Linked DNA regions of Homo sapiens: region 1 is linked to region 2. Evidence: fine-mapped expression QTL. Tissue or cell type: adrenal gland. Region 2 holds a variant in brackets; the other region holds the start of a gene. All regions are shown on one strand. Distances are between the middles of the regions.

The links. PIP is the estimated chance that this variant, and not a neighbour inherited with it, causes the effect.
Region 1: BEST3 starts here. The variant in region 2 is fine-mapped to the expression of BEST3 in adrenal gland (GTEx, PIP 0.99).

What each region holds. Positions count from the first base shown.
Region 1 is chr12:69,694,915-69,703,011 of GRCh38, forward strand. BEST3 (bestrophin 3) reads right to left here and starts at 4,389. Exons shown (of 10, transcript NM_032735.3): 1 at 4,291-4,389; 2 at 2,733-2,899. The coding sequence starts at 2,884.
Region 2 is chr12:69,627,961-69,636,068 of GRCh38, forward strand. All of the region lies in intron 2 of LOC105369823 (a long non-coding RNA gene), which reads left to right. Among named protein-coding and RNA genes, the nearest start is that of LRRC10, 21 kb to the left of the region's middle. The variant T/C (reference allele first, on the strand shown) is at 4,325.

The sequences.
Region 1 (8,097 bases), 67 kb after region 2:
TAGCACATTCTTGATTATCATGTGTATAATATCCCTTCAAGGGATATTATAACTGTTCATTTTAAAGCCCAGAATTGTTTGGAGTCTAAAACAAATTTAACAATGAGAAATGAAAACTTTCATTATTAAATTTAGTCACTCTCTCAAAATTTATATTATAGATCTAACCCAACCTGCCCAAACCCCATTTTCTGGTATTGTTAAACATAAGTGCATTTAATGAGACTATTATTGATATTTACATTATAGGGAAGAGATTCAGAGTCTGGAGAAATGTTTTAAGGCAAACTAATAATAATGACCAAAATACAGGAAGGAAAGCCAAACAGATGAATTTGAATAAATCGACGAGTGTAGCTGTTCCAAAGGAGGAAGGAACTCAAGGAAAGATCCATTATAACAAGCATCAAAGGCTCATTTGGGTCAGTAGAACTTTGATAAAGGAAGCAAAGGGATAATGAGATAACAGTAAGCAACCAATTAGATTGCAGATAGAGAGCTGTTGGGAGCTGGTCCTGACAAAGAAGGTGTGTGGGGTACAGGGTGAGCTTGGAGTTCCTGCCCCAGCTTTGGAAGAGGTGTTAGAATTACTGAAGTCAGGGAAAGCTGACAGGAGAGGTACCAGATTGTTGCAGAGGTCTATCAGGGTTATGCTGATGACAATTACAGCCAGAATGGTTTCTGATGTTCAAATAGACATGGTCAAAGAGGATTTAAATGTGGAAAGCATGGACCTTTTTTAAGGTCAGACAAAGCCAGATTTTAATTCCAAGTCTGACACTTATGAATTTGGACTTTGAGCATATTTTTGAACTCTCTGAGTCTCAGTTTTCTCATCTGTAAGTGGGGATAAAAATATCTATATATAAGAGGCATTGTAAAGATTAAATAATATATGTATACATATATATAACCACTTAACAAATTGCCTCATACTTAGTTAATAATAAAATGGTTCATATTAATAGTTGGCCAAAGAAAAAATATTTGGCTAATAGATGTAGAAATTTTAATAGCTAGAAAGTATTTCAGAAATTATTTTGTCAAATTCCTCCAAAAATAGAAATAAATGTAATCAAATTAATGAATCTGGTTCCTCCTTATAATTTTTGTTAGGAATAATTATGTACCTATAATAGAGCTAATAAAGACTTAGAGAATGAAACTACATCTATATTTTTCTATAGATGTGTTTGATTTTCTTGACAAACTCATCCTATAGTTCTTGGTATACCTTTGATTAAGATAGAAAGATCTATTTTAATAAGGTATTACAATTGAACTTTAAAAATTTAAGGATGACTTGAACTGATAATTTTTGTTATAAATGTAAGCCCTCTGCTTTAGAAGAAATATATGCATAAAATGTTGTGGGGTATAAGTATGATATTGGAACAAAAGTTGAGGCCCCAAGGAACATTTCTAGCTACATTGCAACTGTACTAAGGGCTATTCTGTTCTATTCTTAGCAGAAGTAGCAGCAATAAATTCACATTAGTAAAAATGAACTAATGAGATAATTATCACGAAACACCATTGTATCTTTTACCATTTCATATTCTGAAGGCTTAGGTGATACCTACCTAAATTGCCAAAATAATATCATATTATATGACATGTCTGAAAAATTATTAGAGGTTGTTAATAGGACTTTCCCTCTAAAAATATTTTGTCAAGATATATACCAATGCATACACTTGCTTGGAAGGGTTGTTTTGACATGTGGAAAAATAGCTGTACCTATTTTACTTTTAATAATTATCAGTCAACTACATTAATATCCCTCTTTTCCAAAGGAGATCCTGTTGCTGCAAGGAAGAATGTGAGAGCAATGAAACACAAATTTGTTTATCTGTATGCAGAAGAAAAATAACAAACTATGAACATAGAAAAAATGGAAATACAGCCTCAAAAACCTTTAGCTTTCCTGTTTTAAATTTTAGCTTCCTCCAGAGAAGAAATTTATGCATTCAATTTTAATAAAAAAAGCTTTAAAATCTCATAAGTCTTCCCTTTTATCATACTGATGAAATTTTATTAAGACTATAACTTTTCATCATAAAAATATTTCTTGGACTTGATATTGCTCAAATTTCCTGTCAATCTGACAGGCATATGTTGTAATGTTATAAAGAATAAGCACCTCCTTTTGTGAACATAATATACCCTCAACTCAGAAAACGGAAAGAAAATAAATTATTCTACAGGCCTTTGCTTTAGTTGAGGTACTGTTAAGTGTGGCAGGCATCATCCTGGATAAGATATTTTCATTCCAGGCCAAAAGAAGGAAAGCTTTTCCCTGACATACACCAATCATGAACATGTTGATTATATAGGTAGTTGCTACAAGCTGTCAAATCATCAACTATGAATGACAAGTTGACAGAAGCACAAATAATTATTGTCTGTGGACTTTGCCCATTCAAAAGTCTTTACACAGTAAAGATCTAAGGATAATCCTTCCATTTTGTGCCTATTGCAACAGTCTCGAGGCACAACTGGGGCTGGAATGAAGGCCACCTGAATCTTAACAGTGAGGGTCTATTTTACAACCTAACAATGGTTAGTGGTGGATTAAAATCTGTCCTGAGGGGAAGAAGACAAATGAGAGGCTCACGCAAAAAAGGAGTTCCATAATGCGAAGTCAGTGGCAATCAAAAGGTTCAGATTTTTGAGACTGTATCTTACACAATATCTGATGGCCATTTAAGGAGACATGTAAAGAAAAGTACCTGTATACCAAACTTATTGCTGTATAAAGAACAGCAAAAACAATAAATTCCCTGTACAGTAGTTTGTAGATGCTGCCTCTCCACTTGAGGAGTAACCTATGAAATCCAAAAAAAGTTGCATTTGCTACTTTACTGGAGTAAGTGACAGTCATCTTGGATAGTTTTTTCTAGAAGAGCAAGAAGACAAAACACAAGTAAAAAGCAATGTTTAAAATAGGGCATAAATCTGTATGTCTGTATATCAAGGAAATTCAAGCCAGCAACTAGTCAGCCATATCTCTGTTTTGTCTTTCTTAGTTTCTATAATTCGGAACTTTCAGATAACCATTATCTCAGTTTAGCAGAAAGCAGGAGGAAAGCAGTCTCTGGGAAGAGTAATATTAGACATCTTAAACTTGCCTTAACTGTTAAATATTATTTTTAGATTATATAGCCATTGGCCAATATATATTTGAATGAACAAATGAGACAAACAAGGCCCTCGTGAGAATTTAATTGATGGGGCACTTTTGGTGGGTTTGATTGCATGTAGATGTCTCTCTAGTGGAGGTCCAAATGCATCGTTAGCACTCATTGCATTTCAAAAGTCAGCCAAAAAGTTGGGTCATAGTGATAAATAAGAATGGTGCAGTTTCCCCATGACAAGTTGTACATAAATGCTTAGGGATGGTTCACATTCTCTTTGGAGTTGAACAAAATGAGGTCATTATTTACAACTCTTTCTACTTGAGTCCATTTCATGAATGTGGTTAGGATGAGCACTGGGCCCAAAAGCCTTGTTTTTGGTGAGTTCTTTGGAATTCCACCACTTTTCACCAAGACATTAAATATTCAGGTTTTGAAACAGACAGCGCAAAGCTAATCTTTGAAAATCTTGCTCAATTTCTGGCTAAGATAGAACATATGCAAATAAAATGAGATTTATTTAAAATCTTACTTTTCTCAAAAGGATCTATGAGGAGAGTCTTATAGAGCTACTTAGACTGAAATCATGAAGCTTTTAGATAGAATTGTACTAGACACAAAAAATAAATTCTGTAGCAGATTTCTTTTGTAAAGTAGCCTACACCACACATTTTATCATAAACAAGAAAATTTTCTATCTTTACTCATTGCTGGAAAAACAATTCAACTCTGATTTGCCTATTTTCCCTAAGGAAATGAAACTCTGGAGCTACGTTTACAGCATTTTCTAAAATCACAAACTTAGCTTTCAACATTACTGATTTTAATAAAGAAGGTAGGGCCTTTTGGCACAAGTAAGTGGCATTACAAAAGGATGGGACTCATGCCACAAAACCGGTTTTATTTTTCCATCTTTACCTTGTCTATTTGCCTAGTGCGAATACAGCCAAAATTGGGAGAGGAGCATAATAAATTAAACCCATTTCATAATTTGTTCTCATGGACTCCCGGTAGTTTTAAATAACAGTCCTTAATTAACTTTCCTTTCTTTCATTTAGTAGTTCACTCTTCTTTTCAAGCTCTGCCAGGAAAATGAAAATCACAGCAAGTAGAGGTCAGAATTAAAATGCATAGGTTTACTCTGGGCACTAACCTATTTATTTGGTTTGTAGTCTCCGACAGGAAAGAGAATCTTCAAATTTCGGGCTCCCCCGAAGAGGTGCCTTCAGGTCGGTGCTGCACGCCCGGTGTCACCCTTCGCTCGTGCACAGTCAGATTTTCTTTCTGTTCTCTGGCCACTGAGAGGACCCAGAGTGTGACAAGAACAGGGGTTAAATGTTTTTCCACTTGTAGAGGCCTGTTTATGCCAGTTTAGCCACTGATGACAGTTATAGCTGGGAACAAACAGAAGCAACAGCTGCTGATGCTGCTTTTTTCTAAGCTATAATTATAACTCCACCTGCCACCCCAAGTACCCCTTTGAATGAGAAGTTGGCAGTGACATGAAGGATGTTGGGCCGTTTGTCTGTTAGATTCATTTGACTCCACCCTGGGATCAAGGAAGAAAGGTTGATTTGGCCCTAAAGAGTTCAAAAAAGAGGCCCCACCAGCCAAAAAAAAAAAAAAAAAGTCTTTTTGTGCTTGAAATGAAGATTAAATTCTTAAAACTGGGCTGGAACGCGGTGGCCCACACCTGTAATCCTAGCACTTTGGGAGGCTGAGGCAGGCAGATCACCTGAGGTCAGGAGTTCGAGACCAGCCTGGCCAACATGGTGAAACGCTGTCTCTACTAAAAATACAAAAATTAGCTGGGTCTGGCGGTGGGCTCCTGCAATCCCACCTACTTGGGAGGTTAAGGCTGGAGAATCACTGGAACCCAGGAGGCGGAGGTTGCAGTGAGCTGAGATCACACCACTGCACTCCAGCCTGGGCGACAGAGCGAGACTCTGCCTCAAAAAACAGATGAAAAAATTCTTATGAAGCCATAAACTGGGGCAGACAAGAATATAAACAGGATTTTTGCCACTTGAGAGGTGTTGAAAATGTTCTTCAATTAAAAGCAACGATTATGTGTTAGTGTGTGTGTGGTGTGTGTTTGTGTGTTAGAAGAACACATAGAGAATCATGATATATTGATGGCTTAGTGTAGTGGGAAATAATAACACATGGATTCATCACATTTTTTTTCTTTTAAGATGGAGTCTCGCTCTGTCGCCCAGGCTGGAGTGCAGTGGCACGATCTTGGCTCACTGCAACCTCACCTCCCGGGTTCAAGCGATTTTCCTCCCTCAGCCTCCCAAGTAGCTGGGATTACAGGTGCACACCATCACACCGGCTAATTTTTTATATTTTTGGTAGAGATGAGGCTTCACCATGTTGGCCAGGCTGATCTCGAGCTCCTTACCTCAAGTGATCTGCCTGCCTCGGCCTTCCAAAATGCTGGGATTACAGGCGTGAGGCAACGCACCCGGCCAGATTCATCACATTTGTTATCCTTCCATGGTCAGCTAGGAAATTTTTTCTTTTTTTTTTTGAGATGGAGCTTTGCTCTTCTTGCCCAGGCTGGAGTGCAATGGTGCCGATCACGGTGCACTGCAACCTCCGCCTCCCGGGTTCAAGCGATTCTCCTGCCTCAGCCTCCTGAGTAGCTGGGATTACAGGCATGCGCCACCATGCCCAGCTAATTTTGTATTTTTAGTAGAGACAGGGTTTCTCCATGTTGGTCAGTCTGGTCTTGAACCCCCGACCTCAGGTGATATGCCTGCCTCGGCCTCTCAAAGTGCTGGGATTACAGGTGTGAGCCCACCACACCCGGCGCATAGTTTCTTTCTTTTCTTTTCCTTCCTTCCTTCCTTCCTTCCTTCCTTCCTTCCTTCCTTCCTTCCTTCCTTCCTTCCTTCGTTCCTTCCTTCGTTCCTTCCTTCCTTCCTTCCTTCCCTCCCTCCCTCCCTCCCTCTCTCTCTCTCTCTTCTTTCTTTCTTTCTTTTTTTGAGACACAGTCTCACTCTGTCGCTTAGGCTGGAGTGCAATGGCACAATCTTGGCTCACTGCAACCTCTGCCTCCTGGGTTCATGCAATTCTCCTGCCTTAGCCTCCCGAGTAGCTGGGACTACAGGCGTGTCCCACCACACCTGGCTAATTTTTGTATTTTTGGTAGAGAGGGAGTTTCACCATATTGGTCAGGCTGGTCTTGAACTCCTGACCTGGTGATTCGCCCTCCTCAGCCTCCCAAAGTGCTGGAATTATAGGCGTGAGCCATCGCGCCCAGCCCCATATTTTCTTTCTTAAAAGAGAGAATTCACCAGCGTTCTTTAAGTAATAAAATAAATAATTTCAGGGCCAATTCCTGGGACTTTTCCAACCTTCTAAAGTAACTTGTGCACCCTTGCACCTTAACTTAAAGAAAATGTATTTTTGTGGAGAAAGATATAGAAAAAAATGCTTATTCTAAAATTAAGATTACATATAATTAAATTTTTCTAAAACAGTAAGTTTTATATGCATTTCGCTGGATTCTTTATCAAATTCTAGGTACCTTAGATTAGAGCAAAGCCAGGGCTGTAGGTATCTTTTTAATTTCTTGCCCCCATCCCTGTTCATAATTCCAGTATGGAGCCCTGTGAATAATGAATATTTAGTATGTATTTGCTGTTTGATTATTCCTTACCTTCACTATTATAATTCTGTTGGTTATTTGAGGGAATTTGTGAACATTTAAAAAGCATATATACAATGTTGCACATCTTATGTTGTGTTGCCATGAAAAGTGGTCTGATAGATCTGATGTTATGTTTATAAAGGTTTGCAAGACGAATCTCAGCAAATCTAAACCCAAATGCTTATGAAATAGGAACATCGGAGGTATTTTGTAAAATTCTCACTCTTGCATCTCCTATTGGTTGTGTGGTGGCCCTGACAGCTGGCATATTCCCAGCAGCCATGACTGCATAGCTAGGGGATCTGCCTCTGTGGGGCACTGAACGCACTGTTGGTTGGTTTCATTTCTAAACAGGGATAATTATGTTCCTCTCTCCCATTGGGTTGTTTTGAGGAATGACTAATTAATGGTTGGAGACAGCATTCTAAATGCAAATTAGTCAATAATGATCAGATTGAATGAACAAACTCCCATTGTTGAGCTCTGAATCTGGTGGTGATTTCTAACAGGTACTGAAAGAGGCCTTGTCGAAATAGCCCTGCTTAGAGGAGACAAGCCACTAAAGCTTATTTTAAAATATCCAACAAACACCGGATTGCAAAGTTGAAGGCTCATATCACTTTTTAAATCGAACTTTAAAGTTTCTTTAGAAATTTTTTTCCAGATTCTAAAAGTAAAATATGATTATTAAAAAATAAAAAGGAAAACAACATATAAAGAAGACAGTGGCACTCTGTCCTGCCACACTAGAGGGGTGGTATCATTTGGCATAAAGTTAATCTTGCTAGACTTTTGTGGAAAATATTTTAACCCTATAATTAATAGCAAACGATATGATAGACCCTTAGGCAATTTCAGGGCTCTATGAAATAACTATACCAGCCATATTTTCCCTTGACAGTAAACATCAAGTTATGTGATTTTGACCACTCTGATTTTCAACAGTCCAGAGTAGCACATTTGTCTTTGATTCCAGTAAACCTCCAATGACAGGGCAATTCATAGAAAAGAACAAGGAATCATTTCCACTTGGAATCCTGATATTCACCTATAGATGTCAAAATAAATCTCTTTGTTCCTTAAGGAAACAGGAAATAGTAACAACAACAAGTTTACGTAGCCAATACCACCTTCTACTTGAGAAGCAGCTATTTAGAAAGCCCCACATTCATTTTAAACTGATTTGACATGTCTCCACTGACATGAGAAGTCTCTTGTCAAATTTCTTCTGAGTGATTAGTTGAACATAAATTGTGTGTAGATAACACATGTATTCAAATATTAACCAAAGACCAGACGTTG
Region 2 (8,108 bases):
ACATTTAAGAATAGAAAGTGCTTGAAAAAAGATCTTTAAAAATATTATTCAATGGACAGCTTGGGCAACATGGCAAAACCCCATCTCTACCAAAAAATAAAAAAATTAGCTAGGCATGGTGGTGCACACCTGAGGTCTCAGCTACTCCAGAGGCTGGGGTGGGAGGATCACTTAAGCCCAGGAGGCAGGGTTTGCAGTAAGCTGTGATCATGCCACTGCACTCCAGCCTGGGTGACAGAGTGATAATCTGTCTCAAAAAAAAAAAAAATTCAATAGAGAATTTATATTATACCTTATATATATATATTAATTTAGGTTATACCTTGATTACAGTTATGAAAAAAAGATGAAAGGAGAAAGAAAAAGATTGGAAGGAAGCATGTTCAAATGATAACCGGTGATTTCTTTTTCTTTCCATTTTTTCCAAAACACGTGACACATTTACTTTACAATGCAAAACATATATTTAAAATTTTTCCCTTTTCCTCTTGGACAGCTTATGTCCATCTCAAGGAGTTAGAAGGAGATTAGATAACCAGGAAGAGACCAATCTTTTCTATAAATTTCCTTCTTTGTAAAATGGGGGAAACAGTAGAAGAACAGTATAACTTTATAGGATTAGTCTGAGCATTAAATGGGACAATCTGGGTAAAATTTTTATTGCAAGTCTAGCACATGGTAAATGGTCTGTGTTAGTGATTAGCAGCATCACCATCACCTTCATCATTAGTGTTAGACCATCAGGACACTCCTGGACTTGGGAGTTCACCATTCCACTAGACATCACAGTTCCAATATTGTGTGCCTGTGGCATGTGAAGAGGAAGCAGAAATGCCACTTCCTAGTTGGCTGATCTGTGAGTTTCTAGCCATGAGCTGAGAGAGAAATCAGCCTTAGAGTTGGAAGTGGTGAACTTTCTGTAGCGATAGTAGAAGCTGACCTTGTCACTCCCAGGAATGCACCTGCCACTCAAATCAAACCTCCCTGTGAGCAAGGAGGGCAGGCATTCTTCCTTCAGTACAGCACCAGGAATCTCCTGGGGACAGGGGGAGGAGAGATGGGGCAGGTCAGAAAGCCTGCTGTCTCTGCATGGAAAGGGGGTGGAATTCTGGACCTAGCCAAGGTTAAGTTCCTAGCCAAGTTCATCCAGTAACATGACTTCTTTCTTTTGGTTGATAGCTCCACTATCTCTATCTAGCCCTCACCTTTCCTCTAAGACTTGTTTTATATACAGTTGTCTATTCGACATCTCTACTTGGATGGGGTTTAATATACCCCAAATAATACTCTATTCTTTTTTTATTAGCACGCCCTCAACCTACAAGTCTTCCTCTCCTTTCCATCTCACAGAATAGCACCACAAACTACCTACTTGCTTGAGGGAAAATTTAGGAGTCACCTTCAATTCCTCCTTTCTTCAACCATATCCAGTTCATCAAATGGCTCTGATATATATCCTGAATAATCTCCTCACCCCTGCTCCCCCACTCCCTACCTCCAGAGCCATAGTCCAGTCCAAGCCACTAACACCTTTCCAAACCATTCTTCACACAGCAATCAGAGTGCTGCACAAACAAGGTAAATCAGGTCATAGAAACTGGCATAAGAACTCCAATGGCTTCGTACTGCCCCTGGAATAAAACCCGAACTCCCTACTCTGAACGCCAAGGCCTGTGTGATCTCACTTCCATCCACCTCCCCAAGGCTTTGATTCAAACGCACTCACATCTATTTGTCAGACGCACGGAGCGCTTGCCCACAGCAGGGCCTCACTGCTCCTTCCATCTGGTATACCCTTCCGATGGCTAACCCTTTTTATACTCAACTATCAGGTCAAATGGCAGCTCCTCAGAAGGCCTTCCCTGGCCTTCCAAAGCCCCCATCACATCTGAGTAAGACACCCCTCTGTCCCTAATGGTGACTACCACATTGCTCTGTTGATTTTCCTTATACCCCTCATTACACTGTGAAATTATCTTGTTCACTCATTTACCAGGTTTTGGCTGTTTCCCCCAAATGGGGATAAATGCCACAAAAGAAGGGTGTTGTCAGTCATGTGCATCATTGCATGTCTTGCTCCTGGAACAGCATGTGGGACATACTGGTTGCCAAATGTGAAAGGGAGGCAGGAGCAGATGATTTGTGTACAGGTATGTGGGGCCCGGTTCGGGGATCCAGGCGGAGTTGAGTATGATGCCTGATAGGATTGTCATGCCCAGTTGTTGCAGTTTAGATGCCAAAACCTCCACCCGAGGTGAACTCTGAAACTTCCCCGATAGCCCTACTGCAGTGCGTGGGCTTCTTCCTTCCTGGGCTGTTTTCTCACCTTTGTTACAAACAGCTTGGCAATACTAGCATGATGGAATAAGGGTTGAGAGAATCATCTTTGAGCTGGATGACCTTTGTCCTGGCACAACTGGATGGTGTTTGATCTGATGTACCCAGCACTGTCAGCAGGGGGATCCACTTCCTATCCCATCTTCACAAGGTGAAGGATCAGGAATCGGTGAAGAAACCAAGTTTTCTTTCTCATGAACAGGAGAAACGTAGGCTTTTAATATCAAATGAATGTGTGAACCCGGATTATCTGAGACAGGTCTCAGTCAGTTTAGGAAGTTTATTTTGCCAAAGTTAAAGACACATGCCAGTGACACAGCCTCAGGAGGTCCTGACGACGTGTGTCCAAGGTGGTCCGAGCACAGCTTGGTTTTGCACACACACTTTAGGGAGACATGAGACATCAATCAATATATGTAAGATGAACATTGATTCAGTCCGGAAAGGCCGGACCATTGGAAGCAGAGGCGGGGCAACTCAAAGTGGGGAGGGGGCTTCCAGGCCATAGATAGATAAGGGACAAAAAGTTGCATTCTTTTGAGTTTTTTTGTTTGTTTGCTTTAATTGAGTCAGGGTCTCACTCTGTCACCCACACTGGGGTGCAGTGGCGCCATCTCAGCACTGCAACTTTTGCCTCCCGGGTTCAAGTGATTCTCCTGCCTCAGCCTCCCAAGTAGCTGGGACTAGAGGCGCCTGCTACCATGCCCAGCTAATTTTTGTATTTTCAGTAGAGACAGGGTTTCACCACCTTGGCCAGGCTGGTCTCGAACTCCTGACCTCAAGTCATCTGATGTACCCAGCACTGTCAGTGGGGGGATCCACTTCCTATCCCACCTAGGTCTCCCAAAGTGTTAGGATTACAGGTGTGAGCCATGGAGCTTGGCCTCTTTTGAGTTTTTGATTAGCCTCTCCAATCAGATATGCATTTACCTCAGTGAGCAGAGGGATGACTTTGAATAGAATGGGAGGCAGGTTTGCCCTAAGCAGTTTCCAGCTTGACTTCTCCCTTTGGCTTAGTGATTTTGGGGCTCTAAGATTTATTTTCCTTTCACAAATGGATCTGATGACTGGAAAATGGTTCCCCTGACTCAGAGCCTCTGCTCTGACCTAGAGCACTATCTCCTTTATCTAGAACACTCTTTCTCATATACCGCGTGACTTCCTATCCCATCTTTTATATGATTGCTCAAACATCCCATTCTTCATGAGGTCCTCCTCAGCTACTTTTACAAAAATTCTTTGCTCACTTTCACCCAGCCTGCTTAGTTTTTCTCCAGAGCACTATCACCATCTACCAAGCTATAGACTTTATTGAGTGATGTGTTTATTGTCCCCCACCCTCCAGTGTAAGCTCCATCAGTGAGGAGACTTTGTTTCTTTGGTTCCCTGTGTATCTCCAGCATTCAGACCAATGCTCACCACATCACATGTGCTCACTACATATCTGCTGGATGAAATAAAATCTAGGTATCAGAATCACAGGTTCATGGCGTGGGAGGATTTCTGGGCTAAGGCATCCTAATAAGAAATGGCATCAAGCCTGAGATGTCACTGAAAATGAAGTTTAAAACAAAAAAACCAAAGCACTGAAGCTAAGTACGTGTCCCAGGGCTACAAAATTATACATCTCTTAGATTTAATGGAGCCACAAACCAAGGTACTTAGAATGAAAAAGATTTCCTTCCTTCCTTCCTCCTTCCTTCCCTCCCCCTCCCCCTTCCTTCCTTCCTACTTTCTTTCTTCCCCTTCCTTCCTTCCTTCCTTCCTTCCTTCCTTCCTTCCTTCCTTCCTTCCTTCCTTCCTTCCTTCTTTCTTTCTTTCTTTCTTTCTTTCTTTCTTTCTTTCTTTCTTTCTTTCTTTCTTTCTTTCCTTTTTCTTTTTTTGATGGAGTCTCGCTCTGTCGCCCAGGCTGGAGTGCAGTGGCGCCATCTCGGTTCACTGCAAGCTCTGCCTCCAGGGTTCACGCCATTCTCCTGCCTCAGCCTCC[T/C]GAGTAGCTGGGACTACAGGCGCCCGCCATCACACCCGGCTAATTTTTTGTATTTTTAGTAGAGATGGGGTTTCACTGTGTTGGCCAGGATGGTCTCGATCTCCTGACCTTGTGATCTACCCGCCTCGGCCTCCCAAAGTGCTGGGATTACAGGCGTGAGCCACCACTCCTGGTCTCTCTCTCTCTCTCTCTCTCTTTCTTTCTTGTTTTTCTGAGACAGAGTCTTGCTCTTGTTACCCAGGCTGGAGTACAATGGCACAATCTCAGCGCATTGCAACCTCTGCCTCCCGGGTTCAAACAATTCTCCTGCCTCAGCCTGCTGAGTAGCTGGGATTACAGATGCGCACCACCACGCCTGGCTAATTTTTATATTTTTAGTAGAGACGGGGTTTCACCATTTTGGCCAGGCTGGTCTCGAACTCCTGACCTCGTGATCACCTGCCTTGGCCTCCCAAAGTGCTGGGATTATAGGCATGAGCCACCGCACCTGGCTAAGATTTGTATTTTAGAAAGAATTTTACTTATTTTGTAATTGATAGTTGGTATGGATTGAGTATTTGTGCTCCCTTGAAAGCCCTATGTTAAAGCCCTGATCCCCAGTGTGATGGTATTTGGAGGTGAGGTCTTTGGAGATAATTAGGGTTAGATTAGGTCAGGAGGGTGGGGCCTTCATGATGTCCTCATTAAAAGACTACAAGACAGGAGACCATGTGAGGATACAGCTAGATGTCTACAAGCCGGGAAGCAGGCCCTCACCAGATGTCAAATTTTTCAGTACCTTGATTTTGGGCTTTCCAGCCTCCAGAACTGTGAGAAATAAATTTCTGTTGTGTATAAGCCACCCAGTCTATGGTACTTTGTTATGGCAGCCCAATTGACTAAGATACTGGAGTGGTATTATAGAACAGTGTTATAACCTCCTTGAATTGCAGTGCTAGTTGGAGGACTAAACTCTAGGAGGCAGTGTTGCATATTCTGAAGAAATTGTTCTTTCTAACTCTCCTAAGAACACACAGTGTGACCTTAGACCAGCCACTTTCCAGCCTTGAGCCTTCGAGTCCTCATCCGTGATGGGAAGGAAATAGATTGGACATACTTTAAGTTTCTCAGTCAATGCTAACATCTGTAATCAATTCAGTGTGCAAGATGATGTTAATTTGCCTAGATCTTTTTTCATCTAATATTCACCTTTATGTTTATTTACCCAATGTCCTCACTGTTGGTGCAGAGTAAATTCTATCTGGAACCACTGCTTAGGATTGCTGTCTCAGTGGAAAATAATATCTTTCTTTCTCCAGATGTCATTGTTTTCCTCTTTTTAATTCCTTACCTTTCCTACAATCCAGAATTGTAAGAAAACAAATATTAGAATAATATTTGACCAAATATCTGGGCATTATGGCCCAGCCAAGTCGACACATAAAATTAGCCATCACATAGTACCGACTACTTATGCTTTGCTTTTCTAAAAGTGTTCTATATGCTTTATCTAAGTGTTCTATATGCTTGATATAAGAAATGCTGAGGCCTGGAGGGATTGAAATGGCTTGTCCAAGGTCACACAATAAGTGGCACCATGGGACAAAACCCCAGGTCCTGTTATTCTGCATCCCATGCTCTTTCTCCCTCATCCTGCTGCTTCTCCAGAGTTGGCAGTTACCAGGAGCATGTCATTCATGGTGATTTGTACCTGGCTGTGAAAGGCCCTCTGGATCAGAGGCACAATCACTGACAGTCTGATTTGGAATCCTTGGTCTTGTGACACAAAACACAATCAGCCCTAGCTCGGATGGACGGTTTTGAGAAGGTGTGAGTTTTTCCTTTTGCTTTGCTTTTTTTTCATTGTTGCAAGCAATTTGGCTTCCTGATGTCTATTTTTTCATTTCTCAGCCATGACAAAGGCCATGGTGATGAGTTGCTTCTGTGAGGTATTGACCATCCCTTGTACTCGGGATCAATTCACTGGGTCCAGCTCACAGAAAGACGTTACAGACAGATTACTGGCAATAAATGTGAACAAAGCCACAATGATGGAAATACATCTAAGTTTCTCCTGGGCTCTTTTGCTTTATTTACCTATTGACTTTTCAGCACCATGTCTTTCAGATGTGTCTAGGAAATGCCTCGTATATCTCCTTACTAGCATTAGTCACAACTATCAGCTGACAATGAATTTTGTCCTAGGTTGTTGGGAGTTGCCATGATGCTTAAGGACTCTATGGAATAAAAGAGGGAGAGTATCTTTGGAAGTTTAATTTGGTTGACCTGGGAGGACGTCTTAGGAGTAAAATAAGATCCACATTAGCACATGATAAAATGGCCCTATTGTTCTGTGGAGCGTTTTTTTCTTTTTTTCTTCTTTTTTTTTTTTTTTTTGAGATGGAGTCTCACTCTGTTGCCCAGGCTGGAGTGCACTGGCATGATCTCGGCTCACTGCAACCTCCACCTCCTGGGTTCAAGCAATTCTCCTGCCTCAGCCTCCTGAGTAGCTGGGACTACAAGCACAAGCCACTATGCCTGGCTAATTTTTGTATTTTCAGTAGAGATGGGGGTTTCACCATGCTGGCCAGGCTGGTCTTGGACTCCTGACCTCAGGTGATCCTCCTGCCTTGGCCTCCCAAAGTGCTGGGATTACAGGTGTGAGCCACTGTGCCTGGCCTGGAGCAGTTTTTTCCTTGGGAAGCCAAATGGTAGTAGAGTTAGTTTCAACTAAACCCTGCCTTTGGTTCAGTGGGAGCCAGTAACATTGAAACATGTGATGTCTGGGCCTTGGCAACCATCAAGACAAAATTCAATTTGCCCTAGAATTTTCACACTCAGGGGAAACACACATGCGCACATACACACACATCAAAAGAAAGTTTGCCAAAGGTTCGGGGTAGCAGGAGGGACAAGGGGAAAAGCTTTCATTTAAGAACAGTCATGAATGGTTAGCATATGAAAGGTATCACACCAGGTCCTGGGCCTGCAGCCTCTGTAGCCTCACAGAGCTCATGGTCTCCAAAAGGCAAATTCAACAAATATTTATTAAGGTCCTACTGTGTGTTAGACACGGAATGAAATGTCCCATCCTATTTGGTGCCATCACAGAACTTCAGTCCAATAGGGCATAGGTGCTGTGATAGGGGAGACAGAGGATATGGAATTCTGTAGCCTGCCCTGGCCTGGAAAGCATGGGAAAGCTTTCTAGATAAAGTGACATCAGAGCCGCCCTCTTAAGGATGTGTAGAAGTCAACCAAATGGAGGCCATTTTTGGGCATGGTGGTTTCATTCAGGAGAAAAACAAACGTTTTGGTTGGAAGAGATACGAGGCCATTGGTAGAACTGAAATACAGGCAGATAGGCTGGAAAAGGCGAGTACAAAGCGAGGCTGGGGAATGGCTGGGGCAGGAGGAGGGGAGTGGTGAGAGGTGAGGCTGAGGAGGGGACCAGGGGCCAGAGCTGGGGTGCCTTGTATGCCATATTGAGGAATTTGGGCTTCGCTTTTAGTCTTTTGAAAGATTTTAAGATTTTTAAAAATTATGAATGAAACAATGAGGCCTGAGGCTTTGAAAGTTCACTCTGTCTGCAATTTGCTGTGATATGTCCTTTAATATAGATTGCCCAATTGCCCAGAGAGTACTTCTAGAGCATACTCGAGGATGCAGAAGCAAGGTAAAGGGATGTGGGGACAGGCGGGGCTGTGTCTGTTGCCATCAGCAGCTCTGGGCTCCCTCTTGGGAACTCTGTGGCACTCCTGGTACCTTCTCTGATGTCTCTGTCATCCATGATAGTCGTATGCTC